Linked DNA regions of Homo sapiens: regions 1 and 3 are each linked to region 2. Evidence: fine-mapped expression QTL. A gene starts in region 2. Each other region holds a variant in brackets. All regions are shown on one strand. Distances are between the middles of the regions. Region 1 holds the start of LINC01775 (long intergenic non-protein coding RNA 1775). Region 2 holds the start of TIMM13 (translocase of inner mitochondrial membrane 13). Region 3 overlaps TMPRSS9 (transmembrane serine protease 9).

Region 1 (10,492 bases), 34 kb after region 2:
GGCGGGGCCTGCCGGCTGCACCCCCGCCCGGCCCCTAAGCCCCGGCGCCCACCTCGCGCGTGGTCACCTCCTCCTTCTCTGAGATCTTGAGCAGGAGCCGGTCGTTCTCCAGCTCCAGCGCGCGGACGCGGTCGATGTAGTGCGCCAGGCGGTCGTTGAGCTCGCGCAGCTCCTCCTTCTCCTGCAGCCGCGACAGGCGCGTGGGCGACAGCGGCGTGGCGGGCCCGCCCGCGCGGCCGGGCAGCGGCGTGGCCATGGTGGCGGCGGCTCGCGGCCTGCGCTGCTCCCGACGGCGGCCCGGGCTCGGCGGGCTCATTCAATCCGCGCCGCCGGCTGCAAGATGGCGCCGCGCCGCGCCGCGCCCGCCGCCCGCCGCGGCGGGGCAGCCTGGGACTGGTAGTCCGACCGCCGGGCGCGCGCGGGGCACGCCGGAAGTTGAAGTCTCCGTCCAGCTCTCGCTTCGCAGAGGCGCTGACTCCAGAGACAGACTTCCTGGCTGCAAACTCCCAGCTCCGCCACGAGGAAACAGCGTTGGGTTGCTTTCTAGTACCTGTTTCCCCACTTAGAGAACCTCAAAACGTGTTCAAAGAACCAGACACAAAAGGCCATATAGGGCCGGGCGTGGTGGCTCACGCCTGTAATCCCAGCACTTTGGGAGGCCAAGGCCGGTGGATCACTTGAGAAAAGAATTTCGAGATCAGCCTGGACCACATAGGGAGACCCCCCCACACCATCTCTACTACGGAGGCGCGCGCCGGTAATCCCAGCTACTTGGGAGGCTGAGGCAGGAGAATCTCTTGAACTTGGGACGTGGAGGTTGCAGTAAGCCAAGATCGCGGCACTGCACTCCAGCCTGGGCAACAATGAGAAACTTTGTCTCAAAAAAAAAAAAAAAAAAAAAAAAAAGCCATATAGTGTACAATGCCACTGATATAAAATGTCCAGAAGAGGCTGTCAAGGAGTATGAATTTCAACAAATTGAGTTTAATGATCTCATTGGCTCTTATTAGCAATTCATGAATTGGATAGCATTCAATCTATTAAATAGGCACTCCAATGAGCTGAGCAGAGAGGATGGGCATTCTGCATTACAGGCAGAAAAGGCTGAAGAAAGGAGAAATAAGAATTAAAATAAAAGCCAGGCCAGGTACAGTGGTTTGCTCACGCCTGTAATGCCAGCACTTTGGGAGGCGGAGGTGGGAGGATAGCCTGAGCCCAGGAGTTTGAGACTGGCCTGGGCAACATAGCAAGACCCCATTTCTAAAAATAAAAATAAAAAAATTAGCCAGGTGCAGTGGCTCACACCTGTATTCCCAGCACTTTAGGAGGCCAAGCCGGGCAGATCATGAGGTCAGGAGTTCGAGACCAGCCTGACCAATATGGTGAAATCCCGTCTCTACTAAAAATACAAAAATTAGCCAGGCATGGTGGCACATGCCTGTAGTCTCAGCTACTCGGGAAGCTGAGGCAGGAGAATTGCTTTAACCCGGGAGGCGGAGGTTGCAGGGAGCCAAGATTGAACCACTGCACTCCAGCCTAGGCAACAGAGTAAGACTCCACCTCAAAAAAAAAAAAAAAAAAAAATTAGCTGGGCGCCTATAGTCCTAGGTATTTGGGAGGCTAAGGTGGCAGGATTGTTTGAGCAAGAGAGGTCAAGGTTGCAGTGAGCCCTGATCACATCACTGCATTCCAGCCTGGGTGACAGAGTGAGAGTTTGTCTCAAAAAAAGTAAAAATAAAAATACGAAATAAAAACCAATTGGTTGTTTCAAAGTTACTTTTTTCATAGGGTCTGTTTTAACCCCCTCTATTTTGAGGGTACTTCCCTATCAGGTTAACCGGTCCCCTTTGGCTTGGTGGCTGTGAATGTTTTTTTTTGAAAACCTGCACCCTTTAAAGTTCAGTTTGAGGCCAGGTACGGGTGGCTCTCACCTGTAATCTCAGCACTTTGGGAGGCTGAGATGGGGAGATCGCTTAAGCCTAGGAGTTTGAGAACATCCTGGGCAACATAGTGAGACTCTGTCTCCAAAAAAAAAAATTTTTTTTTTTTGGAGACAGAGTCTTGCTCTTGTCACCCAGGCTGGAGTGCAATGGCATGATCTCGGCTCACTGCAACCTCCACCTCCTGGGTTCAAGCAATTCTCTGCCTCCCGAGTAGCTGGGATTACAGGCACCCGCCACCATGCCCAGCTAATGTTTGTATTTTTAGTAGAGACCTGGTTTCACCATCTTGGCCAGGCTGGTCCTGAACTCCTGACCTCGTGATCCACCCACCTCGACCTCCCAAAGTGCTGCAGTTACAGGCGTGAGCCACGGCACCCAGCCAAAAAAATTTTTAATAATTAGCCACATGTGCTGGCACACACCTGTAGTCCCAGCTCCTCGGGAGGCTGAGGCAGGAGAATGGCTTGCATCCAGGAGTTCAAGTCTGCAGTCAGCCATGATTGCGCCACTGCACTCCAGTGTGGGCAACGGAGCGAGACCCTATTTCAAAAAATAAAAAAAATAAAAGATCAGTTTGACTACGTGGTACCTGGCACTAGTGACTCCATTCCAATTTTATCTGGTCTGCTGGGGACTAGAGACCCCATTGTCTAAAACAATGGCCTGCCATACATTTTATTTAACAAGGCCAGGCGCGGTGGCTCATGCCTGTAATCTCAGCACTTTGGGAGGCCGAGGCGGGCAGACCACCTGAGGCCAGGAGTTCGAGACCAGCCTGGCCAAAATGGCAAAAACCTGTCTCTCCAAAAAGTACAAAAATTAGCCAGGCGTGGTGGTGTACGCCTGTAATCCCAGCTACTTGGGAGGCTGAGGCACGAGAATCGCTTGAACCCAGGAGGCAAAGGTTGCAGTGAGCTGAGATCACACCACTGCACTCCAGCCTGGGCGACAGAGCAAGACTCCGTCTCCAAAAAAAACCCCCCAAAATTGTAATTTAACAAGACAACCTATACAGCAGTGTTTCTCCAACTCTGCACTAGATATTTGGGGCCAGATCACTCTCTGTTGCAGGGGGTTGGAGTCAGGAGGTGCTGTCCATTACAGGGTATTGAGCAGCATCCTCGGTCTCCACCCACTCCATGCCACGAGCATCCCAGCCTCATACTTATTTTTTATTTTATTTTTATTTTTAGTTGAGGCGGGTCTCGCTCTGTGGCCCAGGCTGCAGTGCAGTGGCGTGATCTCGGCTCATTGCAACCTCCGCCTCCCGGGTTCCAGCGATTCTCCTGCCTCACTCTCCCGAGTAGCTGGGATTACAGGCACTTGCCACCATGCCCGGCTAAGTTTCTGTATTTTTAGTAGAGACAGGGTTTTGCCATGTTGGCCAGGCTGGTCTTGAACTCCTGACCTCAAATGATCTGCCCGCCTTGGCCTCCCACGTTGCTGGGATTACAGGCGTCAGCCACCGCGTCCGACCCCGGCCCCCTAGTTATGAAAACCAAGTATGTCTCCAGAGATTGCCACATGTCACCAGAGGGGCAAAATTGCCCCAATTGGAGAATAACTTCCTCCTGACCTAGAACTGGCCCGGTCTTCCTTCTGCCTGGGGAACTCCTCCTTTTTACACATCTCACCTTGGGGGTTTGGCTCAGCCTCTGCCAGAGACCCCAGTAAATCACACACTGAGAATCTAATGCCCTTTCCAGCCTACTGAGGACACCAGGGGAAAGAGCCCACCTGCCTCCAACAGCCAACATTCACTCGCTATTATTCCCCTCTTACCAGATAGACCCCCAGCCTTAGAACCCAGGCAGGAAGCCTGGCATGGTGGCTCACACCTGCAATCCCAGCCACTCTGGGAGGCTGAGACAAGAAAATGGCTTGAGCCCAGGAGTTTGAGACCAGCCTGGGCAACATAGCAAGACCCAACTCTACAATACTCTACAGTTTTTTTTTTTTTTTTTTTTTTGGAGACAGAGTCTTTCTGTCCCCCAGGCTGGAGTGCAGTGGCCCAATCTTGGCTCACTGCAACCTCCTCCTCCTGGGTTCAAGAGATTCTCCTGCCTCAGCCTCCTGAGTAGCTGGGATGACAGGCATGCGCCACCATGCCTGGCTAATTTTTGTATTTTTGTAGAGTTTCCTCATGTTGGCCAGGCTGGTCTTGAACTCTGGACCTCAAGTGATCTGCTCACCTCGGTTTCGCAAAGTGCTGGGATTACAGGTGTGAGCCACTGCACCCGGCCCCTACAAAAAAATTTTTTTAATTAGTTGGTCGTGGTGGCGTGCATCTGTATCCCCAGCTACTTGGGAGGCCGAGTCAAGGAGATGGCTTAAGCCCAGGAGGTGGAGGCTGCAGTGAGCTATGATTGCACCATTTCACTCCAGCCTGGATGACAGCGCAAGACTCTCTCTCTCTTTTTTTTTTTTTTTGGCAGGGGGGACAGGGTCTCACCCTGTCACCCAGATTGCAGTGCAGTGGCTTGATCTCGGCTTACTACAACCTCCACCTCCCAGGGTCAAGTGATTCTCCTGCCTCAGCCTCCCGAGTAGCTGGGATTACAGGCGTGCGCCACTACGGCCCAGCTAATTTTTGCTAGAGACGGGGTTTCACCATGTTGGCCAGGCTGGTCTTGAACTCCTGACCTCAAATGATCCGCCCACCTCGGCCCTGCAAAGTGCTGGGATTACAGGCGTGAGACACCGTGCCCAGCTGCAAGACTCTTTCTCAAAACAAACAACAAATAAACCAGCCAGGCAAGAGGGAGCTAAGCAGTGACTGCGTATTTAGAGGACTGATACTGTTTTCCTTCCTCATAAAGGGAGGAATATAAAATATAAAGACAGATGGTAAAGCACAATGGGAAATAAATAATACTACAGGAGGCGGGGCCAGAGGGGAGAAGGATGATTGAGGTTTGGGTGGGAAATGGGGTCACTTTTTTTTTTTTTTGAGACAGAGTCTTGCTCTGTAGCCCAGGCTGAAGTGCACGATCTCAGCTCTCTGCAACCTCCGCCTCCTGGGTTCTTGTGATTCTCCTGCCTGAGCCTCCTGAGTAGCTGGGACTACAGGCATGTGCCACAACGCCCGGCTAATTTTTGTGTTTTTAGTAGAGACGGGGTTTCACCATGTTGGACCAGGCTGGTCTCGAACTCCTGATCTCAGGTGATCTGCCAGCCTCGGCCTCCCAAAGTGCTGGGATTACTGGTATGAGCCACCACGCCCGGCCGGGTCACTTTTCCTATTCT[C/G]CACCCTCAGACTGATCTGAAACCGCCCCCCCGCTCCGCATCAACTTCTCACTGACCACCGGCCTTGGCCACTGGCTGACCAGATCCCCCAACTAGCCCCTTACTGGAGGCCCTGCGGGGTCCCGCCCCCAACCCCATCGCGCTGCCCCTCTGGGCACTTCCATCCCCACATACCCCCATACCCAGCCTTTGCCCGTGCTGTTCCATCCGCCAGGAGCGCCGTTTCCTGCCTGACTGCGCGGCCCTGGGCCTCAGTCTTGCGCTCTGCAAACCGGGGTCTCGAATCTACCCCAGCCCTCCTGTCTCGGCGCTGGGGAGGGGCTTCGGGTGCCCAGAGCCATCCCCGCGGGACCCCCAGGGACTGGACTCCAAGTCCCAGAAAGCCCCGCGCTTCCCGTGGGTGGGGCCCGGGGCTTTCCCCCTCCCAGCGCGCAGTTTGGGAGGCGCTGGGCAATTTTCAAATTTTGGCGCCGAACGGGAGGGGCGGTGACAGCTGAGACCGTGGTCCCCCCGGGGGCACCCACGCCCAGGCTGCTGCTGGCAGCTGCGCCCAGAGCCCGAGGTCTGGGGCATCCCGCAAAGCTGCCCCGTCCATTCCGAGGGGCCTCCCAAGGCACCACACGCGCCAGGGGGCTCCGGGCCCATTTCCATTATGGAAAACTGAGGCACAGGAAGGTTAGGGACCGGTCGGGGAATCCGCACCAGGGGCGTAGCGGAGGCGGGATTCGAACGCGGGACCCTCTTTCCCCCGGGAGCTAGAAATTAGTGACCAATTGGCTGGGCGCGGTGGCTCACGCCTGTAATCCCAACTTTGGGAGTCCGAGGCGGGCGGATCACCTGAGGTCAGGAGTGCGAGACCAGAATGACCACCATGGCGAAACCCCGTCTCCACTTAAAAAAAAAAAAAAAAAAATTAGCCGGGCGTGGTGGCAGGCGCCTGTGACCCCAGCTACTCGGAAGGCTGAGGCAGGAGAATCGCTTGAACCCAGGAGGCGGAGGTTGCAGTGAGCCAAGATCGCGCCATTGCACTCCAGCCCGGGCTACAAAAGCGAACCTTCGTCTGAAAAAAAAAAAAAGAAAAGAAAAGAAAAGAAAGTTAGTGACCAACTGCTGTCTGCTTTTGGGGAGAGGGTACGGGGCCGCGGGAGAGAAATCCCGGACCCTGGGACTATGCAGCCCGTGAGGGCCCCAGTCCCGACCCGTCCATTCCACTGACCTCCACCCGGCACCGCCACTCCCACCCGGGGAGTGGATTTTGGCGCCAGATTTTAAAAATCTCAGCCTAACGGCTGTGGCTGGCTCCCAGCCCGGAATGCGAGCCTGGAGCCCGGATTCCGGAACCTGGATCTGGAGGAGCCCGGATTCCAGAGCCTGGTTCTGAGGGAGCTCGGATTCCGGAGCCTGGATCTCGGGGAGCCCGGATTCCGGAACCTGGATCTGAGGGAGCTCGGATTCCGGAGCCTGGATCTCCAGGAGCCCGGATTCCGGAACCTGGATCTCAGGGAGCCCGGATTCGGAGCTTGGGTCTGAGGGAGCTCGGATTCTGAAGCCTGGATCTCGGGGAGCCTGAATTCTGGAGCCTGGATTCTGGGCTGTGGGTCTTGGGAAGCCGAATTCTGGAACATAGATTCCAGAACTTGAAGGCCAAACCTGGTATCTAAGATCAGAATTCAGGACCCTGGAGTTGGAACCTTGTGACCCCAACAGAAATCCGGGAGGCAAGCAGAGCTCTGGGGCCGTGGCTGGCAGCTGCCTGTTAAATGAGTGAATGGAACAGTGAAATCAACACATATTTGCGTGGCTTCTACTTTGTGGCAGGCACTGGGGGGACAGAGGGGAAGCGAGTACACATTATAAATAAGTGAATTAGGTAGGGCGCAGTGGTTCACACCTGCTATCCCAGCATTTAGAGAGGCCGAGGCAGAAGGATTGCTTGAGGCCAGGAGTTCGAGACCAGCCTGGACAACATAGTGAAAGCCCATCTCTACAAAATATACAAAAATTAGCTAGGCGTGGTGACTCATGCCTGCAGTCCCAGCTACTTGGGAGGCTCAGGTGGGAGGATCACTTGAGCCCAGAAGGTAGAGGCTGCAGTGAGCAGAGATTGAGTCACTGCCCTCCAGCCTGGGTGACAAGAGTAAGACCCTGTCTCAAAAATAAATAAATAGGGCTGGGCTTGGTGGCTCACACCTGTAATCCCAACACTTTGGGAGGCCGAGGCGGGCAGATCACCTGAAGCCAAGAGTTTGAGACCAGCCCAGCCAACACAGTGAAACCCTATCTCTATTAAAAATACAAAAATTAGCCGGGCATGAGGGAGCACGCTTGTAATTTCAGCTACTTAGGAGGCTGAGGCACGAGAATTGCTTGAACTCGGGAGGCGGAGGTTGCAGTGAGCCGAGATTATGCCACTGCACTCCAGCCTGGGTGATGGAGTGAGACTCTGTCTCAAAAATAAATAAATAAATAAATAAATAAGTGAATTGTATGGCATGCTAGAGGATGGTGAGCATGAGGAAGAAAGAAAGTGGGGTAAATGCTGGGGCATGTGTGGAGTAGGGGTAGAGGTGGGCCTCTTAGAAAAGGGCAAGACAGGGTCTCGCTATGTTGCCCAGGCTGGTCTCAAACTCCTTGGCTCAAGTCATCTGCCTGCCTTGGCCTCCCAGAGTGCTGGAATTACCGGCATGAGCCACCGTGCCCAGCTTATATTCACTTTTCTTATCTCACAGTTTCTGTGGGTCAGGAATCCAGATGTGGCTTAACTTTGGCATCCTCTGTCTCAGGGCTCTGAAAGGTGGCAACCAAGGTGTCTCTGGGGCAGAGTCCACTTCTAGACTCACTCACACGTGGTCAGAAGGATTCTGTTCCTTGCAGACTGTTAGACCAAGAGCCTCAAATCCTGGCCCACTGCTGTCCAGGGCCTGCCTCCGTTCATCAGGAGGAGCTGGGGGTGAATTAGTCAGGGTTCTCCAGAGAAACAGAACCAGCAGGAGGGGAGAGAGAATAAGAGATTTTTTTTTTTTTTTTGAGACAGAGTTTTGCTCTTGTTGCCCAGGCTGGAGTGCAATGATGCAATCTCGGCTCACCACAATCTCTGCTTCCCGGGTTCAAGCGATTCTCCTGCCTCAGCCTCCCCAGTAGCTGGGATTACAGGCATGCGCCACCACACCTGGCTAATTTTGTATTTCTAGTAGAGATGGGGTTTCTCCATGTTGATTAGGCTGGTCTTGAACTTCCGACTTCAGGTGATCCGCCTGCCTTGGCCTCCCAAAGTGCTGGGATTACAGGCGTGAGCCACCACACTCGGCCAAGAGATTTATTATAAGGTATTGATGCACGGGGGCTGACAAGTCACAACATCTGAAGTCTGCAAGCTGGAGACCCAAGAGAGCCGATGTTCCTTTTTATTTTTATTTTTTTTGAGATGGAGCTTCGCTCTGTTGCCCCAGCTGGAGAGCAGTGGCATGATCTCGGCTCACTGCAACCTCTGCCTCCTGGGCTCAAATGATCCTCCCCCCTTAGCCTCCCGAGTAGCTGGGATTACAGGCATGCGCCATCACGCCCGGCTAATTTTTGTATTTTTAGTAGAGACAGGGTTTCACCATGTTGGAAAGGCTGGTCTCAAACTCCTGACCTCAAGTCTCCTGCCTCCCAAAATGCTGGGATTACAGGCGTGAGCCACCATGCCCGGCTGAGAGCTGATCTTTCTGTTTGAGTCTGAAGACAGGAAAAAGCTGATGTTCCAGTCTGAAGGCCTTCAGGTGGGAGGAATTCTCTGCTCCCCAGGGGAGTGGCAGCCTCTGTATTCCATCCGGGCCTTCAGTGAATTCCGCAAGGCCCACCCGTGCTAGGGAGGGTAGTGGGTTTGAGTGACTCAGTGAGTCTACTGATGCAAAGGGTCAAAGGCTCATCTCATCTAATAACCCCCTCACCGGCATGCACAGAGTAATGTTTGACCAAATATGCAGGCACCCACAGCCCAGCCATGATGGCATATAAAATTAACCACCGGGCGGGGCGCGGTGGCTCACGCCTGTAATCCCAGCACTTTGGGAGGCTGAGGCTGGTGGATCACTTGAGGTCAGGAGTTCAAGACCAGCCTGGCCAACATGGCAAAACCCCGTCTCTACTAAAAAATACATAAATTAGCCAGGCGTGGTGGTAGGTGCCTGTAGTCCCAGCTACTGGGGAGGTTGAGGCATAAGAATCACTTGAACCCATGAGGTGGAGGTTGCAGTGAGCCAAGATTGCACCACTGCACTCCATCCCGGGTGACAGACTGAGACTGAGATTCTGTCACCAAAAAAAAAAAAAAAAAAAAAAAAATTAAGCATCATACAGCCGGGTGCAGTAGCTGCTCATCCTGTGATCCCAGCCCTTTGGGAGGCCAAGGAGGAAGGATCGCTTGAGGCCAGGAGTTCAAGACCAGCCTGGGTAACAGAGCAGGGCCCCATATCTACAAAAAATAAAATTAGCTGAAAGCGCCTTTGCAAAAGTTCTATCAGTGAGAAAAAAAAATTTTTTTTTTTTGAGACGGAGTCTCGCTCTGTCGCCCAGGCTGGAGTGCAGTGGCACAATCTCGGCTCACTGCAACCTCCGCCTCCCGGGTTCAAGCGATTCTGCTGCCTCAGCCTCCCAAATAGCTGGGACTACAGGCACGCGCCACCATGCCCAGCTAAGTTTTGTATTTTTAGTAGAGATGGGGTTTCACCATGTTGGCCAGGATGGTCTCGATCTCATGACCTCGTGATCCGCCCGCCTTGGCCTCCCAAAGTGCTGGAATTACAGGCGTGAGCCACCACGTCCAGCCGAGAAAATTATAACAGTAGGCTAAACTAACTAACCCCCATCTTGCCTTAATTATTCCTGGGCTATTGGGCCCAGCTAACTTGGGAAGACATTTAGGCTACAGTTTAAGTGATAGTAGACCTTGCACAAAACCCAACAGCTTTTGTCAAGCTAACCTGAGGCCTTCAGGTTGAGGGAGGAGGGGAGCCTGACATCTGTTAAGGTGCAAACGTTATTCTGGAGGTTATAAGATATGCAGCTTCCAGGCCAGGTGCGGCGGCTCACGCCTGTAATCCCAGCACTTTGGGAGGCCAAGGCGGGTGGATCACTTGAGGCCAGGAGTTCAAGACCAGCCTGGCCAACATGGTGCAACCCCATCTGTACTAAAAATACAAAAATTAACCAGGCTTGGTAGCCCATGCCTGTAGTCCCAAATACTTGGGAGGCTGAGGCAGGAGAATCGCTTGAACCTGGGAGGCAGAGGTTGCAGTGAGCCGAGATCTCACCACTGCACT
Region 2 (10,492 bases):
CCTGGGCTGCCTAACAAGACATAACGTCGTCCACTTTGGGAGGCCGAGGCGGGCGGATCAAGAGGTCAGGAGATCGAGACCATCCTGGCGAACACGGTGAAACCTTGTCTCTACTAAAAAAATACAAAAAATTAGCCAGGCGTGGTGGTGGGCGCCTGTAGTCCCAACTACGCGGGAGGCTAAGGCAGGAGAATGGCATGAAGCCGGGAGGCGGAGCTTGCAGTGAGCTGCATGCCACTGCACTCCAGCCTGGCAACAAGCGAAACTCCGTCTCAAAAAAGAAAAAGACATAACGGCCTCTCTGGCTGGGCGCGGTGGCTCATGCCTGTAATCCCAGCACTTTGGGAGGCCAAGGCGGGTGGATCGCCAGAGGTCAGGAGTTCCAGACCAGCCTGGCCAACATGGTGAAACCCCATCTCTACAAAAAAATAAATAAAAAAAGCCAGGCATGGTGACAGGTGCCTGTAATCCCAGCTACTTGGGAGGCTGAGGCAGGAGAATCGCTTGAACCCAGGAGGTGGAGGTTGCAGTGAGCCGAGATCGTGCCATTGCACTCCAGCCTGGGCAACAGAGTGAGACTCCAGCTAGATAATAGTAATAAAAATAAAAAGCCAGGCGTGATGGTGCATGCCTGTGGTTCCAGCTACTGGGGAGGCTGAGACAGGAGAATCATTTGAGCTCAGGAAGCAGAGGCTGCAGTGAGCCGAGATCATGCCATTATACTCCAGCCTGGGTGACACAGCCTGTCTCTAAAAAAATTAAAAAAAAAAAAAAAAATGAAAGCAGGGACTTTGATGGTTCACAGCTGTGCCATGTCCTTGGGTGCGTGTTTCTTGCTAACTTGGCAGCTGCCCTCATGTAGGTCTGTCCCTGCAGCCTGGGGGCTCTCACTTTCTCAGTCTCAGCTGATTTTGACTTTTTCAATAGCTATGGCGTGGGATCTCTTTGGGCCCAAAAGAGGTGGAGAAGGCCCCCCTCAAAATACAGGCGGGTTCTGTGTGGAGGTAGCTGGTGTTCCCAAGGACAGCGGCTGCGGCTGCTGTCAGATTATCCAAGGCCACCTGGTCTTATGTCAGGGCCAGACGGTGCCAAGGCTGGTGGGGAACTGGCATTTCCCCTTACTGGCCTTGGTAGCTGCTGCGGGTTGGATGGCGGTTGGTGGGGGGTGGGGGGCGGGGGGGACCCAGGGAAGCCAGCTGGGTGGTGATAGAGGGCGGCGGGGGGGCTTGCCCCTGAGGAGGAAAACACGCCTCTGGAGACAGCAGGTGGGTATGGGACCCCCTCCATGGGTGGTAACAGGGTCCCTGAAACCCCCTGGAAACCACCCACGTGTTCTTTCCACAGCTGGGTTCTGAGGAAGGCCTTTGCGCTTGGCACCGTCTGGGGAGGGCTTGGAGGTGATCAGGGATCCAGGCAGAGGGCACCAAGGCAGGGCTGGGGCCTCTGGGGCGGGGCCCTGGTGTGTGCAAAGGCCTTGGGGTGGGAGGGAACTCCTGGAAGACGGAGATGTGGGAGGCTGCCATGAGAGGGGCCTCCGGCAGGGGAAACGTATGGTCCCAAAACTGAAGTCATAGGAAACAAATGCATTTCCAATGTTATTTGAGAAAAGCCCAAAGACCAAGCAGCAGGCCCAGTGTCCTTTCCTGCTGAGTTTTCCTGGGATAGGTCCCCCATCACAACCTACTCCCTGGGGCTCCCAGGGGGATTCGTGGAGAGGCGGCGCCCAGGGGGGCCTTCGTGGAGGAGGTGCCCTGGGTCCGCCTGCCCACGCGCCTGGCTCCCCCGCAGACTGTGGCCTGGCGCCGGCCGCGCTCACCAGGATTGTGGGCGGCAGCGCAGCGGGCCGTGGGGAGTGGCCGTGGCAGGTGAGCCTGTGGCTGCGGCGCCGGGAACACCGTTGCGGGGCCGTGCTGGTGGCAGAGAGGTGGCTGCTGTCGGCGGCGCACTGCTTCGACGTGTGAGTTCCAAACGCTCCAAATGCCCCTACATGTCTCTGTAGCTCACCCGGAACCGAACTGTTGCCCGAAAACGCACCCTGACCCCCTCCTTTGCCGGGAGTGCCCTCCCCAACCCCGGCTCCCACTGCCCCAGGCCACTCCTCCCACCCCCCATCTCCCCATCCTCGCTCCCTGCAGCCCTCCCCTGACCACCCACCCCCTAGCCTGACCACACGGGGCTGGGGCTGCGAAGGCCGAGTCCTACCCCGCGGTCCCCACCTAACCCGGAAGCTGCGGCCCCCCCCCTCCAGCTCCAGGCTAAGCCCACGGGAACATTGGGGTCACTTCTTTCCCCAGCCCTCGCCCCTGGGACTTGGCTCCAGCCCCCCAAAGCCCACCCAGTAGAAAGCTGCCCTCCCCAGGGCCCAAGCCCTGGCAGTCGAGGGGTCCGGTTTTCCAGAGGGGACACCCAGCTCTGGGCTCTGCAGGGCTGGAGGTCAGAAGGGGAGGGCAGGCGGGGGGCGGGACTCGCACGGCCACTAGACCCCTTTTCAGAGCGCTCATATTAGGTGGTGACGGCTGCAGTTCCCGGTGCCGCCTCGGTGCCTGATGGGGGAGACTGAGCCCATTCCCAGACCGACAGCCAGAGACCAAGAGGCCAATAACCCTGCCCAGGGTGCCAGCCGGCCGCTGGGGGACACCACAGGGGCGGGGGCCGGGGGCGTGGGGGCTCGGGCCGACGCCTGTCCTCGCGCGCCCCGCAGCTACGGGGACCCCAAGCAGTGGGCGGCCTTCCTAGGCACGCCGTTCCTGAGCGGCGCGGAGGGGCAGCTGGAGCGCGTGGCGCGCATCTACAAGCACCCGTTCTACAATCTCTACACGCTCGACTACGACGTGGCGCTGCTGGAGCTGGCGGGGCCGGTGCGTCGCAGCCGCCTGGTGCGTCCCATCTGCCTGCCCGAGCCCGCGCCGCGACCCCCGGACGGCACGCGCTGCGTCATCACCGGCTGGGGCTCGGTGCGCGAAGGAGGTAGGCGCGCCCGGGGCCGCGGTGGTGCGGGGCTCGGGGGGCGGCCGGACGCGGTCCCCACCCGCCCCGTCTCGCTCGCCCGCCCGCAGGCTCCATGGCGCGGCAGCTGCAGAAGGCGGCCGTGCGCCTCCTCAGCGAGCAGACCTGCCGCCGCTTCTACCCAGTGCAGATCAGCAGCCGCATGCTGTGTGCCGGCTTCCCGCAGGGTGGCGTGGACAGCTGCTCGGTGAGCCCCGCCCCGGCCCAGGGGACCAGGTCCCGCCCAGCCGCCGGGGAGGGCGGGTTCCCGCTGCCACGAAGCCCACCATCCGGGAGCCACCCTCCGGTGCAGGCTTCTCCAGCGGATCAAGCAGGGAGCCTTTTTGGCTCTGGAGGAATTTCCACTCCACAGCCGTTTATTGGGCAACCCACCGCATCCCATCCCCGGGCCTCGGCGGCAGAGCAGGCAGAGGCTGCAGTGGGAGGCACCGTTCCACTCCGGGACCACGTGGCGGGTGTCCATAAATGTCTGCCACCTTTGCATTGAGCCCATTTTCCAGATAGTGAAAATGCGGCTCCCAGGGGAAGTCACTAGGGTCACTCCTAGAGGGGCCAATGACCCAAGGGCTGCTGTAGGGGAGGTACCGGCCTCTGAACCCCCTTTCTTCTCTCCCCAACAGGGTGACGCTGGGGGACCCCTGGCCTGCAGGGAGCCCTCTGGACGGTGGGTGCTAACTGGGGTCACTAGCTGGGGCTATGGCTGTGGCCGGCCCCACTTCCCAGGTGTCTATACCCGGGTGGCAGCTGTGAGAGGCTGGATAGGACAGCACATCCAGGAGTGACCACCACGTGACTGCCCAGGCCGAGACTCTACGTGAAAGCAACAGGAGCAGCAGGCCACCCAACACCCCACCCCACCGTACCCTACCCAAGGACGGGTGTGGGGGGGCTGTGGGTCATGGGGATGCATTTTGGTACCACCCTTTGTTCCAATAAACACAGCCCCTCCACCCTAGCTCACTGGCTCAGCACCTCAGTGTCACAGCGAGGACCACCTGCCTGGTGCTCCACCAGGACCCGGGGTGGAACGAAGCAGGGTCAAAGCAAGCCCTGACAAGGGGAAGGCTGTCCCCCTTAGCCTTTGGGGCAGGGGTGGCAGCAGCAACACATTCCTCGTGACTCAGCAGCCCGGTGGCACTAAGGGGAAAGATGGACTTCTCCCAACCCAGGGGAGGCTGAGACCCTCCGAGCTGGGGTTCCAGGGACACGCGTCACCTCTTCCCAGAGACCCCTCAGGAGGGAAATAAAGAGGTTTCTCTCCGTCCTCCACCAATTTATTTGCCCATCCGCAGGAGGTGACAGCTCCTGTGGTGTCTGACCACCCCCAACTCCGAAGTCCAGACAAGCTGTCCGCCCAGAATATGAGGCTGACTTGGGCACACTAGGGGAATACCCCAAAGGCCTGAAGGAGGTGCCACTGGGCTGCCAGCACTTCAGGAAGGCACAGGGCCCCACACCCCCGAGATCCAAGCTGCACTGGCTGGCAGGGGGCAGGGCGGGGGGTGGCGAGGACACAGTCCCGTGTGTCCCAGCACCGGTGCCACCCTCCTAAGCCCCGGGCAGGCAGTACGTACATGCGGACCCCGCCTCTCAAAGCACGTTTATGGAAATGAACAGGGTGGGGTGGCCCGCGCTCGCCGGTCACATGTTGGCTCGTTCCCGCTGCAGCCGCGAGTTGTAGGCGCGAGACACGGTGTTCCAGGCGTCCATGTAGCGGTCCATGCACATGGCGATGCACTTCTGCGGGAGCGGAGGGGCGCACGGCTCAGCTCGGGACTTCGCGGCCCCGGGGACCGCCCTGACCCCGGCTCCAGGACGCCCGGGCTGCAGACTACGCACGTGCAGTGACCACTCCGTCGCACCTCCCCGTTAGTCTGCGCACGCGCAGACACCTCCCCCCTCGAATCTAGGCCCTCGCGACCCTTGCCCCGAACCTCCGCGGGTCTCACCTGCTCGGAGTTGTCCAGGGAGCCCCCAGGTTTCCCTATACACTTCCGGAAACACTTGTCCGTCATCCTCTGTGGAGACACGCGAGGCTTTAGCCGCGACGTCGGCCCCCAGGGGTGGCCCTGTCGCCCCCAGCGCCCGTCCCCGGCCAGCCCCGCACCTGCAGCAGCTCCTGCGCGTTGGCCACGGCGATCTGCACTTTCACCTGCTCCATTATGAGCCCTGGGTCCAGCTTCCCGCTGCCGGAGCCCCCGAAATCGGAGCCGAAGCCGCCCTCCATGGCTCCGCAAAGTCAACCGGACCGAGGCCGCGTGCGCCGACTCGTAACTAACTGCGCCGGAAGCGGGCCGCCCGGGGCACCACGGGAAACGGAGTCCGCGCGGACGGGGACGGAGGACTACAACTCCCACACGACCGCGCGCGCCCGGGCCATTCAAGGTCGCGCGGGGGGCCCTCCGCTCATGCGGAGGCCTGGACCTGCCGTTACCTACACGAGCTACCCGTGGTTGCGACTCCGCGGGAAGAGGGAGGCCCTGACTTGGCCGGGGAGTAGGGGGGCTACTACGTGCGGCCGAGGCCGATCACTTTGTACTCACGCTCTGCCTCCAGCTCGTCCCGAAGGGCCTGCCGCGCATGCGCACGAGGCACCCGGCGCGTCTATACAGCGTGTTGCCGCCGGGGCGGAGCCCGGTCGCATCACGTGACGAAGAGTCAGCTTGTGCAACAGCGTCGGAGGCTCACTAGAAAAAAAAGGGCAGGGTCCCATGCATCGCCTGGGTCCTGTTTACACTAGCTACACTAGCCAGTGACCTTTTTCCTTGGGGGTGGAGGGATCTTTCTTAGACATCCGCTTCATTAGGGCAGAGGCCCCGGCTCGAGCTTCCCCTCAGGAATAAACTCAGAGGCAGAACCTAAAATCAAAATGTTTATTGGAGTGTTGTACAAAAAAGTTTCCAGTCATAAAATGTATATTACAAATCATTGGAAAAAAAAAAGAACACATTAGGCATGCATCTTCTTAAAAACCGAATCTCTGAAATGAAAGTCCATGCCAGCCCCAGCTGCAGCCCAGCTCCGTTTTTGCAGGTTGTGCTGTGACGCTCGCTGGACGCAGGGCTTGGAAGAGGCTGCAGGCGGCGACGCCCCAGGACTGAGGAGTCCCTCAGATCTTTAACAAAGAACTGCCGCGTGCAGGCTTCAGACCAACCCCAGCCAAAGCCGCTGGCATGAGGACAGGTGCATGATCGGATTCTGGGTCAGCCCGCAGGCCTCCCGGCTCCTGGGCTCAGCGGGGCAGGCTTCAGCGTTAACCTGGCGCTGTGCACCCCAGAACCCGCGTTGGTCCAGCAGGCGTGGGCCTCCCCCCAGGGCTGGGTGGCGTCTGATGCTTCGCAGGGAGGGCGCTAGGCTTCGAGTCACACGGCACGGGCTTACACAGAGGGATGGTTTCGCATCGTTCTAAGCGGCACACAGCTAAGCGTATTTGGGGACAAATGCAAATTGTTTCCCAGGCCATAAATAACTTTTAAAAATTTGATTTTCTTAGTGTTTCCAAAGACTCAATTCTCAATGAACCTCCAATTACCCACAGGCTGCCCAGTCCACGCTTCTCCCCACCCCCTTCAGCTAAGGGCACCCGCAGTCCTAGGACCACCCCCAGCTCCACCCAAGGCAAATGTAGGGTGGGGGGTTCTGTGGGCCTGGGGCGTGCTGTTTTCAGGACAGGACTGGGCAGCGTCTGGACATGAGGACCTGCGGGTTTTGGGGGGGACTTTGTCCCTGAGCCCAGCCTGCAAGGCTGTCGGCAAATCACAGACCAACTCCAGGATACAGCTTTGCTCCTCCAGAGCCAAAATACATAGGATGTGGCTGAGACCACTGCAGACTCCCCATAGGACAAGATCACCAAGACCCACCCCCAGAACCCTCGCTAGCACGAAGCCCAGCCAGTCGGGTCCGGGTGATTCCTGCTATGAAGGTGGGAAAGAGGACACAGTCTGTCGCCAGCATTCCCACTTCCAGCGGCTGGCAGAGGGTATCCCCGGGGCAGGCAAAGCTCCCTACCAGCCGCCTGACTGGGAGCACAGCGGCGTAGCCTCCAGGAGGAAATGCTTTGGTAAGATGCGCCCCCCTCTATCTACATGGGACCGGGACTTCTGAGAGCAAGGACAGCGAGCAGGGGCTACGTGGAGCAGCGGGTGTTTCTGCTTTGTCGGCCGCTGGCTCCTTCCCGGCCTGGGGCTGGGGCCCCCCATTCCTTCCTGCCACAGGCAGGTCCCCAGGGAGGCGGGATGCAGTCACAGGGGAGCGGTGCCGCCCCCGCCCTGCAGTGAACGCCATGGCCCGGAGACGGCGCGTGCCCATGGCTCAGTTTTGGTGTCTTTAAGACTTGAGCTGCACTTTCTGAAGGAGGCTCTGCCGTCGGAGGGTGCCCCAGCCCCACGCCACCCCGGGGAGGAGGGTCAGCCTGTCCTCAAGGCCCTGGCGTGAGCTCCTGACCTGTGTACTGACCAATGTAAAAAAATAAATATCCATTAAAAAAATAACTTCTGTGTATCTATGAGGGAGGGTGTAAACGGTGAGCTATTGCCGAAGGGGGGTGCCAGGCATTGGGAAGCTGGACTGAGGGGCTTGGGTGCGTCGTGATAGGAGTCAGGTGGCCTTGGCCTGTCTGAGAAACATGGTTTCAGCGAGAAAATCACAGATAAAAGCACAGTATGGATAGACGCATGTGTATATATAGGCACAGGGCAGACGGAGCTGGAACACGGGAGGGGCTCCACAGCGCTCTCCTCCAGAGGGTCAACATGGTGGCGTTCCCTGCAGACAGCTGTTCTGAAACTCACAGCTTCTGCCTCCAAGGCAACCAGATGTGTCCCCTCCACATCTCCCCTCCCTGCTTATTGTTGTGACAGGTCTTACGACGGGACTGTCCTCATTCTTCCTTCCCCAGGTCTTCCCCTCCCCTGCCCTGTTGGCCTTGCACAGTCAGGAACTGAACTGCGGGAAAACTCCCCCAAATAAAGTCAACGGTCCGAGAAACCCGGCCGGTGCGCTGCCAGAACGGGAATCTGGAAGCCCAGGCAGCGGAGTGAAAACCCGCCCTGGGGGCCACGCCATCCCCATGCTGGCCCACACCCGCTGCGTGGCTGCCTGAGGAGTTCCCGCTGTCCGAAGCTGGGCAGCCAGAATGCAGGCTTGGCCCCGGGCCCCACCAGGTCGACGCCTGGATTCTGAATTTGGTTTTGTAGAAAGCCTTAAAAAAACCCACCACCACTGAATTCCTACGCAGTTTCCGCGCTCCGTCCGCAGCAGGGCCGTCTCCTGTCCCCTCGCTAGCCTCGCCGGCCCTCCTCCCTCCAAGCCCAAGCATCTTCTAAACCTCCGGGTCCTGGCCCTGGGCTTCCAATTTGACCAAATGGTGAGATGAGGAGTGGGGTGGGATTGAAAAGTCTCCGGGGCAGCGGCGAAGTGGCAGCGAAGTGAGGCTGGAGGAGACCCGCCAGGAGGGAGGGCTGGGGGAGACCCACCCACACGTTCTGGCAGTTCGCTTAGAAATTCTCTAGAAATGTATCAAGAACTAAAGAAAGCCAATGATATAAAAATAGTTTTCAGTGGCTCTGGGTAAAGAAAGGTGTGTGGATGAGGAGTGTGGGTTCACATCACGTAGCAGCCTCTTGAGGTGGTCCTCGGGTCCCCCTGCAGGAAGGAAGGAAGGAAGGTCGGCCATGATCAGGGCCAGCCTGGAGGCAGCCGGCAGGTAGATGGCTGCCCCCACCTCCCCACCAGGGAGGGGCTGAGCAACAACAGTGTCTATTTCTAGAGCCTTCCATTCCACTTCCATGTCCCCATGAGCCCGCCTGTGAGCTACACATTCTGTTCTGGGTTCCAAAACAGTCACAGGAACTTGCGACGCACGCGTTTAATGCAGCTGTGGTTTCTGCACTCATCTTCTCCCCAGAAGCCAGTATTGAAGGGACCTGTGTCTTCGACTGAGGAAGCCGGTTGACCAGAGAGCATTTGGGGAGCTGTTCAACACCCACCTCTCAGGGGACCCCCTGGCCAGCTACCCTGAGGTCTGTGATGTCGCAAATTCACACGATGGGCACGACCCAGGAGGCAAGAACAGGTCTCTGCCGTGCTGGTAACAGCCAAGGCTGGCTTCACCCTGAGCCACGGCAGCCAGATGGAGCTCCCGTCGGGGATGCGGCCAGCACGCATGTGTATGTGTGTGCACGAGCTCACTCTGCCCCAGAGGCTGCCCCCCAGCCGCAAGTGGGCACAGGGGTCCTACCTGTTGGTGGAAAAGATCCTCCTCGCCAAACTCGGCTTCCTCCTCCTCTTCCTCCCCATTCTCATTCTCACGCATCACCGAGGACTTCTTCACAGTCCTCATGGCCACTTCCTGTGCGGGACAGGACACGGCGGCATGTCCCGGGATCGGGCCCAGAGCTGCTGTGGCGGCCCCGAGGGTGCCCAGACCCTGCCCAGGACTCCAGCCGAGCACCCCCCAAGCCACACACACCCACCTCGCCATCCGCGTTAACCAGGACGGTGCGGAAGCTCTCGCCCGTGCCCCAGCTGCTCTGGCCCTTCCACACCAGCGTCGAGGGGGGGCTGTGGGCCACCCCCGCACCAGCTGCCCACACCTGAGGACCCAATAACAATGGCCCCATCAGGGTCACCTCTGGTTCCAGGGACGTGGGCCAGCCAGTGGCCCCTACCACAAAGCCCCCTTCAATGCCCTGGGCGTTCAGTCCTTCCAGCCCGACGCAGGCTTATCCAGGGTGATGGTCCCCAGGATACACAAGAAGAGACCAGGGTTCACAGAGGCCAAGGGCTCTTGGCAAGCAGGGGCTGAACTGGGATCTGACACCCACCAGGCTCCATGGCCCATGCGCCTGACTGTTAACACTTCACGGGGACGCCTGCCAGCCCCAGCAGCCTGGACTCAGACCCAGGGCACACCACTCAGGCTCCAGGGAGGCCCAGTGGGGTGACACCAGCACATGGAGGTTCTATGACTGCGGCAGCCGCTCTGAGACGGTGCCTGGTGCCACCATCATCCCCACCCACCCCCGCCAAGTCCTGTGCCTCCAGTCCCCTGACCCCACCTCACACCCCATCCGTGGCCACCCTCGCCCTCCTGCCCCACCACCTACCGTGACCATCTGGCCGGCGCGCAGGATGTACTTGGGCGTGAACTTGTAGGCGATCTCCTCCCCCTCCAAGACCTGCCTCTTGATTCTCCAGTTCCCCAGAGACTGATCCTGGAAGACACGGCACACACCTGACCCTCAGCCACCAGGACTGTGACACCGCCCCCATCGCCCTGGCTGGTGGCCCCATCACCCTGACCCTGGTCACCCCCACCAGCTAGGTCACCCCATTACCCCCATGCCCTGGTCATTCCAGTCACCTTGTCCCCTGCCTCGTCCTGACCGGCGGCCCTGTCACCCTGACCCTGGTCACCCCCATCAGCTAGGTCACTCCATTACCCCTGTGCCCCGGTCTTTCCAGTCATCTTGTCCCCTGCCTC
Region 3 (10,492 bases), 31 kb before region 2:
AAGGCCGGGTGCAGTGGCTCATACCTGTAATCTCAACTTTTTGGGAGGCTGAAGTGAGCAGATCATGAGGTCAGGAGTTCGAGACCACCCTGACCAACATGGTGAAACCCCATCTCTACTAAAAATACAAGAAAGAAAGAAAGAAAGAAAGGGAGGGAGGGAGGGAGGGAGGCAGGCAGGCAGGTAGGCAGGAAGGAAGGAAGATAGCTGAGCATGGTGGTGCACGCCTGTTATCCCAGCTACTTGGGAGGCTGAGGCAGGAGAATTGCTTGAGCCCAGGAGGAGGCAGAGATTGCAGTGAGCCGAGATCATGCCCTTGCAGTCCAGCCTGGGCAACAGAGCAATTCCATCTCAAAAAAAAAAAAAAAAAAAAAAGTTAATTTTAACATTTAAATGATGATAATAAACAGCAATTTGGGGAGAAATGCTCTCGTGTGGCAAAATAGTAAGTTCGCGATCCTATGAGAATCCTCCTAGGTTTTTTTTTTTCTTTTTTCTTTTTTTTAAAAAATATTTGTGGAACTTCTGGAAACTCCCAGAGCCAGACATGTTTGACTGAGGCCCTCTAGTGGCTGTAGGTACCAAGTACAATACAATTTGGGTTCCTCGTGTGAGTGTATTTGTGTGTTCATGAGTGTGTGCATGGTGCACACGTGTTCATTTGCATGCGTTTGTGCATGCATGTGTGTGTCTGCGTGTGTATCTATGTGTGCATGCGTGTGTGTGTGTGTGTGTCCATCACCTAGTGAGAGGCAGGGGCGGGGCAGAGTTTCTCATCTGCATTGTAACAAATACATTTTGGGAAAAACAGATAAATATAATTCCCATCAGGACCCCCCTGAAAGGAAAGGAAGTCTTTTTTTTTTTTTTTGAGATGGAGTCTCACTCTGTCTCCCAGGCGCGACAGAGTGCAGTGGCACAATCTCAGCTCATCACAACCTCCACCACCCAGGTTCAAGCGATTCTCCTGCCTCAGCCTCCTGGGTAGCTGAGATTACAGGTGTGTGCCACTACGCCGAGCTAATTTTTGTATTTTTAGTAGAGATAGGGTTTTGCCATATTGGCCAGGATGGTCTCAAACTGCTGACCTCAAGTGATCCACCTGCCTTGGCCTCCGAAAGTGCTGGGATTACAGACATGAGCCACCACGCCCCATCAGGAAGTCTTTCAAGAAGCACTTAAGGCCAAGTGTGGTGGCTCCTGCCTGTAATCCCAGCACTCTGGGAGGCTGAGGCAGGAGGATTGCTTGAGCTCAGGAGTTCGAGACCAACCTAGGCAACATAGCAAGACCCCATCTCTACAAAAAATTAAATAATGAAGACAAGAAACATTTAAAATTAAAATTTTATAATGTTTTCAGTGAAAATGAGTGGTTGTGCGTGCCAGTAGTCCCTGCTACTCGGGAGACTGAGGTGGGAGGATTGCTTGAGCCCAGGAGTTGGAGCCTGCAGTGAGCTATGATCACACCACTGCACTCCAGCTTGGGAGACAGAGTGACACCCTGATAAAAAATAAAAAAGAAAAAGAAAAAAGGACATGATGCCAGGCGTAGTGGCTCACGCCAGTAATCCCAGCTCTCTGGGACGCTGAAACGGGAGGATTGCTTGAGCCCAGGAGTTCCAGTTCAGCCTGGTAACATGGTGAAACCCTGTCTCTACAAAAAATGCAGAAAATTAGCCAGGGCCGGGCGAAGCCAGCTGGGCTCCTGAGTCGAGTGGGGACTTGAAGAATTGTTATGTCTAGCTGGAGGATTGTATATGCACCAGTGAACACTCTGTGTCTAGCTAATCTGGTGGGGACTTGGATAACTTTTATGTCTAACTAGAGGATTGTAAATGCACCAATAAGCACTCTGTGTCTAGCTCAAGGTTTATAAACACACCAATCAGTGCTCTGTGTCTAGCTAATCTAGTGGGGACTTGGAGAAATTTTAAGTCTAGCTAAAGGTTTGTAAATGCACCAATGAGCACCCTGTGTCTAGCTCAAGGTTTGCAAATGCACCAATCGCACCAATCAGTGTTCTGTGTCTAGCTAATCTAGTGGGGACTTGGAGAACTTTTGTGTCTAGCTAAAGATTTGTAAATGCACCAATCAGCACCCTGCGTCTAGCTCAGGGATTGTAAACACACCAATCAGCACCCTGTCAAAACGGACCAGTCAGCTCTCTGTAAAATGGACCAATCAGCGCTCTGTAAAATGGGCCAATCAGGAGGATGTGGGTGGGGCCAGATAAGGGAATAAAAGCGGACTGCTGGAGCCAGCAGCGGCAACCGGCTTGGGGACCTTTTCACAGTGTAGAGGATTTGTTTTTTAATTCTCTGCGAGAAATCTTGCTGCTGCTCACTCGTTGGGTGTGAGATGCTTTTATGAGCTGTAACACTCACTGTGAAGGTCTGCAGTTTCACTCCTGAGGCCAGCAAAACCACAAACCCACCAGGAGGAATGAACAACTCCAGACACGCTGCCTTAAGAGCTGCAACACTCCCTGGGAAGGTCTACAGCGTCACTCCTGAAGCAAGCAAGACCACGAACCCACCAGAAGGAAGAAATTCCGAACACATCCGAACATCAGCAAGAACAAACTCCGGACACACCATCTTTAAGAAATGTAACACTCAGCGTGAGGATCCGCAGCTTCATTCTTGAAGTCAGTGAGACCAAGAACCCACGAATTTCGGACACAGTAACATGGGGAAACCCTGTCTCTACAAAAGAATGCAAACAATTAGCCAGGGCCAGGCATAGTAGCTCACCCCGGTAATCCCAGCACTTTGGGAGGCTGAGGCAGGTAGATCATGAGGTCAGGAGTTTGAGACCAGCCTGGCCAACATGGGTGAAACCCTGTCTTTACTAAAATACAAAAATTAGCTGGGCAGACTGGTACGCGCCTGTAATCCCAGCTACTCAGGAGGCTGAGGTTGGAGAATTGCTTGAACCCGGGAAGTGGAGGTTGCAGTGAGCCGAGATCATGCCACTGCACTCCAACCTGGGCAACAAAGGGAGACCATGTCTCCAAAAAAAAAAAAAAAAAAAAAAAGCTGGGCGCGGTGGCTCCCACCTGTAATCCCAGCACTCTGGGAGGCCGGGTTGGGCGGATCATGAGGTCAGGAGATTGAAACCATCCTGGCCAACATGATGAAACCCCGTCTCTACTAAAATACAAAAAACATTAGTTGGTCATGGTGGCATGTGCCTGTAGTCCTAGCTACTCGGGAAGCTAAGGCAAGGGAATCGCTTGGACCCAGGAGGCAGAGGTTGCACTGAGCCAAGATCGTGCCACTGCATCCCAGCCTGGCAACAGAGTGTGAGACTGTGTCAAGAAAAGAGAAGGAAAGAGAAAGCTAGCCAGCCAGGCGTGATAGTGGGCGCCTGTGGTCTCTGTGGTCTAGCTACTTGGGAGGCTAAGGCAGGAGGATCACCTGAGCCCATGAGGTCGAGGCTGCAGTGAGCAGTGATTGTGCCACTGCACTGAAGCCCGAACAATAGAGACCTTGTCTCAAAAAAATAAAACATTTAAAAAAATAAAAATGAGAATTCAGCCCTTCGCAAACAGCTCACCATTTTAGTTGGAGATGAGAGGCTGAGTGGAGAGCGGGAGGCGTTCTGAACTATTTCTGCAACTTCCTGAATCTGCAGTTGTTTAGAGTAGAAACAGAGTGAGGTTGGGACACAGAGGCGGGGCAATTCAGTCCGCCCACCAGGGTGCTCGTGTTTCTTTAGTTTCTTGAACGAGAAAACATACCGTTTTTAGAATTGGTTCAGAATATTCTATCTACTGAATATATGGCTACGTAAATACCCATCTAGCATATCTATCCATTTAGGATAAACGGAATTGGGACCCAGCTTTCACGGTTTACGCGGTTGCTATTTGCATGGTTTAAATGTTGTAATTACGGCCATTTTTTTTGCGCTGGTGTGCACTTCTGGTAGTTTTAACGTATTTTTGACCAAAACTCGTGCTCTCATG[G/A]TTTCTGTGGTTGCTCTCGTAGTTTTTATTTAGATTTTTTTCTGCTGCTGCTTGCATCAGCATAGGAATTTTTTATGACTATTATTTTTGCTGTACTTTGTACTTTGGACACAACACAGCCAACAGCTAAAAACCAGTGCTTTCTGCCTGGCGTGGTGGCTCACGCCTGTCATCCCGGCACTTTGGCAGGCTGAGGCGGGCAGATCACCTGAGGTCAGGAGTTCCCGACCAGCCTGGCCAATGTGGCGAAACCCCATCTCTGCTAAAAATACAAAAATTAACGCTGGGTGCAGTGGCTCACGCCTGTAATCTCAGCACTTCGGGAGGCCAAGGCGGGTGGATCACCTGAGGTCAGGAGTTCCAGAGCAGCCTGGCCAACATGGTGAAATCCAGTCTGTACTAAAAATACAAAAAAACTAGCCAGGTGTGGTGGTCCACGCCTGTAATCCCAGCTACTCAGCAGGTTGAGGCAGGAGGCTGAGGCAGGAGGATCGCTTGAACCCGGGAGATGGAGGTTGCAGCGAGCTGAGAAAACACCACTGCACTCCAGCCTGGGTGACAGAGTGAGACCCTATCTCAAAACAAACAAGGCCGGGCGCGGTGGCTCATGCCTGTTAATCCCAGTGCTTTGGGAAGCCAAGGCTGGCGGATCATCTGAGGTCGGGAGTTTGAGACCAGCCTGGCCAACATGGAGAAACCCCATCTGTACTAGCTGGGTATGGTGGTGCATGCCTGTAATCTCAGCTACTCCGGAGGCTGAGGCGGCAGGAGAATTGCTTGAACCCGGGAGGCGGAGGTTACAGTGAGGCGAGATCATGCCATTGCACTCCAGTGTGGGCAACAAGAGCAAAACTCTGTCTCAAAACAAACAGGCCGGGTGTGGTGGCTCACGCCTGTAATCTGAGCACTTTGGGAGGCCGAGGAGGGCGGATCACGAGGTCAGGAGATAGAGACCATCCTGGCTAACACAGTGAAATCCCGTCTCTACTAAAAATACAAAAAAATTAGCCACGCGTGGTCGTGGGTGCCTGTAGTCCCAGCTACTCGGGAGGCTGAGGCAGGAGAATGGCATGAACCCGGGAGGCGCAGCTTGCAGTGAGCCGAGATTGCGCCACCGCACTCCAGCCTGGGCGACAGAGCGAGACTCTGTCTCAAACAAACAAACACAAACCAACCAGTGGTTTTTGAAGATGACCTCATGGGACTGTGGCCGGAGAGTCCTGATGGCCTCTGGCTGTGCTCATGCCCCTGCCATAGGAGGCGGGGACTGTCATTTCACCGTCTCCTGATGCCATTCCAGAGGTTACGCCCTGAAGTCAGCTCAGATCCTGGGCCAGGCACTGCATGGGAGACAGGCATGAGCAGGACCTCTTTCTGCCTTCGAGGAAAACACGGGGGCATCTGGGGCTCACTTGGCACTCATCCACCTTGTGCTGTACCTGGGGACCTCCGGGTGGGTGGCTGTCATAGAATTCGGCTCCAAACCAGGATGCTTTTGGGAATTGAGGGAGAGCCCTGTGAGTAGCTATTCAGGGCTATCACGGGGGCGTCGACCACCCCACTGCGTGTCAGGAGTGACCACCAGGGTGTGTGAGTGCAAACAGGGCGGGGCCTGGGTGGCAGCTCAGCGGAGCCCTGAGCCCCCAAAGGTGGGCTCTCTCACGGGCCCTGGTCTCGTCCCCAGCCTTCCTCTCTACACAGGGCTTCCACGTGGACCACACGGCCGAGCTGCGGGGAATCCGGTGGACCAGCAGTTTGCGGCGGGAGACCTCGGACTATCACCGCACGCTGACGCCCACCCTGGAGGCACTGGTGAGGGTGGTCTGTGTTTGGGGGCCAGGGAGGAAGAGCGGGTGGCCGGGGGCTTTGACCTGGAGGTGCTTTCCGTGTGGGAGGGAGGCAGGCCACAGGCAACGAAGCTGAGGTGGAGGCTGTGAGACCGGGAGGCCAGGCCAGGGGGCGGGCAGGACGAGGCCAGGTGGCCAAGGCAGATACCTGCAAGGCAGAGCTGTATCCACTGAGGACACACTCACATGGGACTTTAGGCCACATTTAGAGGTTTTTTTTTTTTTCTTTTTTTTCTTGAGACGGAGTCTCACTCTGTCACCCAGGCTGGGGTGCAGTGGAATGATCTCGGCTCACTGCAAGCTCCGCTGCTCAGGTTCAAGCGATTCTCCTGCCTCAGCCTCCCGAGTAGCTGGGATTACAGGTGCACGCCACCACGTCCAGCTGATTTTTGTATTTTTAGTAGAGACGGGGTTTCACCATGTAGGACAGGATGGTCTTGAACTCCTGACCTCAAATGATCTTCCCTCCACGGCCTCCCAAAGTGCTGGGATTACAGGCGTGAGTCACCGTACCCAACCTGCCACATTTAGAGTTTTACATTTTATTCTAAAGGGGAATCAGAGCCCTCATGCACAGCTGGGGGAAGGTATTTTATTTTATTTTTTTGAGACGGAGTCTTGCTCTGTTGTCCAGGCTGGAGTGCAGTGGCAGGATCATGGCTCACTGCAACCTCTGCCTCCCGGGTTCAAGCGATTCTCCTGTCTCAGCCTCCTGAGTAGCCAGGGTTACAGGCACCCACCACCTAGGATGAACAGGGAAACACAGCGTGGCTATGCACACACTGGAATATGACTCAGCCAGGAAAAGGGGCCAGGCTTGGACACAGGACACAGCGAATTATATTTTAATGAAAAAATAATGTTTTCCATTTTATTCGAAGAGAAACAGACGTGTGACCACATCAGCAATCACGTATTAAAAACAGCACTCCAGGCGGGCACGGTGGGTGGCTCACATCTGTAATCCCAGCACTTTGGGAGGCCGAGGAGAGTGGATACCTGAGGTCAGGAGTTTTGAGACCAGCCTGAGCAACATGACAAAATCCCACCATTAGTAAAAACACAAAAATTAGCGGGGCGTGGTGGTGTGTGCCTGTAGTCTCAGCTACTCGGGAGGCTGAGGTGGGAGGATTGCCTGAGCCCAGGAGGCAGAAGTTGCAGTGAGCCAAGATCGTGCCATTGCACTCCAGCCTGGGTGACCGAGTGAGACTCCATCTTAAAAAACAATTTTTAAAAATAGGCTGGGCGTGGTGGCTCACGCCTGTGACGCCTCCTGGGCTCAAGCAATCCTCCCACCTCAGCCTCCCGAGTAGCTGGGAGTGCAGGCACACACCACCATGCCCAGCTAATTTGGGAGGCTGAGGTGGGCGGATCACGAGGTCAGGAGTTCAAGACCAGCCTGGCCAACATAGTGAAACCCTGTCCCTACTAAAAAATACAAAAAATTAGCCACGCATGGTGGTGTGTGCCTGTAATCCCAGCTACTTGGGAGGCTGAGGCAGGAGAATTGCTTGAACCTGAGAGACGGAAGTTGCAATGAGCCGAGATCGTGCCACTGCACTCCACCCCAGGCGACAGAGCAAGACTCTGTCTCAAAATAATAATAATAATAAAAAATTTAAAAATAAAACATAAGTCTGGGCGTGGTGGCTCACAACTGTAATCCTAGCACTGTGGAAAACCAAGGCAGGTGGATCACAAGGTCAGGAGTTCGAGACCAGCCTGGCCAACATAGTGAAACCCCATTTCTACTAAAAATACAAAAAATTAGTTGGGCATGGTGGCGGGCACCTGTAATCCCAGCTTCTTGGGAGGCTGAGGCAGCAGAATCGCTTGAACCTGGGAGGCGGAGGTTGCAGTGAGTGGAGAATGCACTACTGCACTCCAGCCTGGGTGACAGAGCAAGACTCTGTCTCACAATACATACATACATACATACGTACATATAGATAAAAATTTAAAATAATAAAAGGAAATGCTTTCCCATGGAACCAACCCCTTCTCCAGCTCCCTCCAACACCTGACAGGCCTCTGCAGTGCCAGGGTGCCCATGCTGTGGGTCTCAACATTTGATATTCTTGTTTCTATTGCAGTTTGTAAGTAGTTTTCAGAAGACAGAGTTAGAGGCAAGCTGCGTGGGTTGCTCGGTACTGAATTATAGGTGAGTTGGAGCTTCCATTGGGTGAAGGAAACTTGGTGGACATCTGGGAGTTTCTGGAGGAGTCCAGAAAAGTTTGGAAGATTCTAGAAGATTCCAGAAGATTCCAGCAGGGCGGAGCCCCTCCCTCTCCAAGGGCCTCTCCTCCATACCTGTAGGGATGGGAACTCCAGTGTCCTCGTACATTTCCAGCTGCACTTTCTGCTGCGACCCCTCCAGACGCTGAGCCTGGGCCTGGAGGAGGAGCTATTGCAGCGAGGGATCCGGGCAAGGCTGCGGGAGCACGGCATCTCCCTGGCTGCCTATGGCACAATTGTGTCGGCTGAGCTCACAGGTGAGTGGGCAGCCGAGACCGAAACCCCATCACGAGGAGGCTGGAGTGGGGCAGGAGCTGCAAGATACATTTTGATAACCACCCCTTCCCATAAAAAGAAAACAAACTGGCCGGGTGTGGTGGCTCATGCCTGCAACCCCAGCATTTTGGGAGGCCGAGGCGGGTGGATCACCTGAGGTCAGGAGTTTGAGACCAGCCTGGCCAACACCCCATCTGTACTAAAAATACAAAAATCAGTTGGGCGTGGTGGTGTGCACCTGTAATCCTACCTACACAGGAGGCTGAGGCAGGAGAACTGCTTCAACCTGGGAGGCGGAGGTTGCAGTGAGCCGAGATCGTGCCATTGCACTCCAGCCTGGGCAAAAAGAGTGAAACTTCGTTTCAAAAACAAACAAACAAACAAATGTAAAAACTGACATTGCCTTTGCCTTAATGGTGTGGATAAGGGGTCAGCCATCTTGTTCTGTAAAGAGCCAGAGTGTTGTGTTGTGTTGTGTTGTCTTGTCTTGTCTTCTCTTTTCTTTTCCATTTTTTTTATTTTTGAGACAGGATCTCACTCTGTTGCCCAGTCTGGAGTGCAATAATGAAGTCTTGGCTCACTGCAGCTTCTGCCTCCCAGGTTCAAGCAATTTTCCTGCCTCAGTAGCTCCCGACTCACTCCCGAGTAGCTGGGATTACAGGCACGCACCACCACGCCTGGCTAATTTTTGTATTTTTAGTGAGATGGGGTTTCACCATGTGTACTGGGCTGGTCTTGGACTCCTGACCTCAGGTGATCCTCCTGCCTTGGCCTCCCAAAGTGCTGGGATTATAGGTGTGAGCCACGTGCCCAGTTAATATTTTCATCTTTGTGGTCCGTTGGGTTTCTGTGACAAGCACTCAGCTCTGTTATTTGTAGCACAAAAGTAGCCACAGACAATACATAAATGAATAGGTGTGGCTGTTTACCAATAAAACTTATTAAAAATAACAAGCAGTGGGCTGGATTTGGCCTATGGCCGTAGTTGGCCAACCCCCTACTGTAGAATCAAGGATAAATGCTACACTCTAATAAAATTGTATGGAAGGCCGGGTGTGGTGGCTTATGCCTGTAATTCCAGCAATTTGGGAGGCCAAGGTGGGCTGATCACTTCAGATCAGGAGTTCGAGACCAGCCTGGCCAACATGGCGAAACCCCGTCTCTACTAAAAATACAAAAATGAGCTGGGTGTGGTGGCACGTGCCTGTAATCCCAGCTGCTCAGGAGGCTGAGGCAGGAGAATTGCTGGAACCCAGGAGGCGGAGGTTGCAGTGAGCCAAGGTTGCACTACTGCACTCCAGCCTGGGTGACAGAGTGAGACTCCATCTCAAAAAAAAATTAATAAAAATAAAAAATAAAATTATACAGTGCATGATTTTGTATGCACCTGGTTTTAAAAAATAAAAAACAAAATTGTACGGTGCAGCAGGTCATGATTGGAGAGTCAGATGCAAGTTCAGACCATTGTTAAAGATTTGTTGCCAGGTGTGGTGGCTCATGCCTGTAATCCCAGCACTTTGGGAGGCCGAGGTGGGTGGATCACCTGAGGTCAGGAGTTTGAGACCAGCCGGGCCAACACGGTGAAACCCCATCTCTACTAAAAATAAAAAAATTAGCCGGGCATGGTGGCGGGCGCCTATAATCCCAGCTACTTGGGAGGCTGAGGCAGGAGAATTGCTTAAACCTGGTGGAGGTGGAGGTTGCAGTGAGCCAAGATAGCACCACTGCACTGTAGCCTGGGTAACAGAGTGAGACTCTGTCTTAAAAAAAAAAAAAAAATGGCCGGGCGCGGTGGCTTACGCCTGTAATCCCAGCACTTTAGGAGGCCGAGGTGGGCAGATCACAAGGTCAGGAGATCGAGACCATCCTGGCTAACACGGTGAAACCCCGTCTCTACTAAAAATACAAAAAATCAGCCGGGCGTGGTGGCGGGCGCCTGTAGTCCCAGCTGCTTGGGACGCTGAGGCAGGAGAATAGCGTGAACCCGGGAGGCGGAGCTTGAAGTGAGCCGAGATCGCGCCACTGCTCTCCAGCCTGGGCGACAGAGGGAGACTCCGTCTCAAAAAAAAAAAGTCACCTTGACCTTGACATGCAGGACATTTATGGTTCCCTCCCCACCAACCGTCACATGCTGGTCGAGGTCTTAATAACCTCTGCTCCAGCG

What was found.
Region 1: its variant is fine-mapped to the expression of TIMM13 in whole blood (INTERVAL, PIP above 0.99).
Region 3: its variant is fine-mapped to the expression of TIMM13 in whole blood (INTERVAL, PIP 0.99).

Annotation. Positions count from the first base shown.
Region 1 is chr19:2,456,618-2,467,109 of GRCh38, forward strand. LINC01775 (long intergenic non-protein coding RNA 1775) reads right to left here and starts at 5,568. Exons shown (of 2, transcript NR_134931.1): 1 at 5,364-5,568; 2 at 2,320-2,483. It overlaps LMNB2 (lamin B2), which reads right to left and starts at 342. Exons shown (of 12, transcript NM_032737.4): 1 at 53-342. The coding sequence starts at 316. RefSeq lists silencers at 1-140, 261-440, 5,755-5,824. The variant C/G (reference allele first, on the strand shown) is at 5,190.
Region 2 is chr19:2,422,301-2,432,792 of GRCh38, forward strand. It overlaps TIMM13 (translocase of inner mitochondrial membrane 13), which reads right to left and starts at 5,286. Exons shown (of 3, transcript NM_012458.4): 1 at 5,114-5,286; 2 at 4,956-5,024; 3 at 3,325-4,746. The coding sequence starts at 5,233. The coding sequence ends at 4,648. TMPRSS9 (transmembrane serine protease 9) reads left to right here. Exons shown (of 19, transcript NM_001395513.1): 16 at 1,789-1,957; 17 at 2,702-2,967; 18 at 3,057-3,193; 19 at 3,627-3,961. The coding sequence ends at 3,788. LMNB2 (lamin B2) reads right to left here. Exons shown (of 12, transcript NM_032737.4): 9 at 10,116-10,223; 10 at 9,483-9,602; 11 at 9,248-9,358; 12 at 5,866-8,652. The coding sequence ends at 8,611. RefSeq lists enhancers at 4,033-4,776, 4,777-5,522, 5,607-5,756 and a silencer at 4,967-5,056.
Region 3 is chr19:2,390,885-2,401,376 of GRCh38, forward strand. TMPRSS9 (transmembrane serine protease 9) reads left to right here. Exons shown (of 19, transcript NM_001395513.1): 3 at 5,655-5,782; 4 at 7,911-7,978; 5 at 8,134-8,309. Among named protein-coding and RNA genes, the nearest start is that of TIMM13, 31 kb to the right of the region's middle. RefSeq lists an enhancer at 3,490-3,579. The variant G/A (reference allele first, on the strand shown) is at 3,971.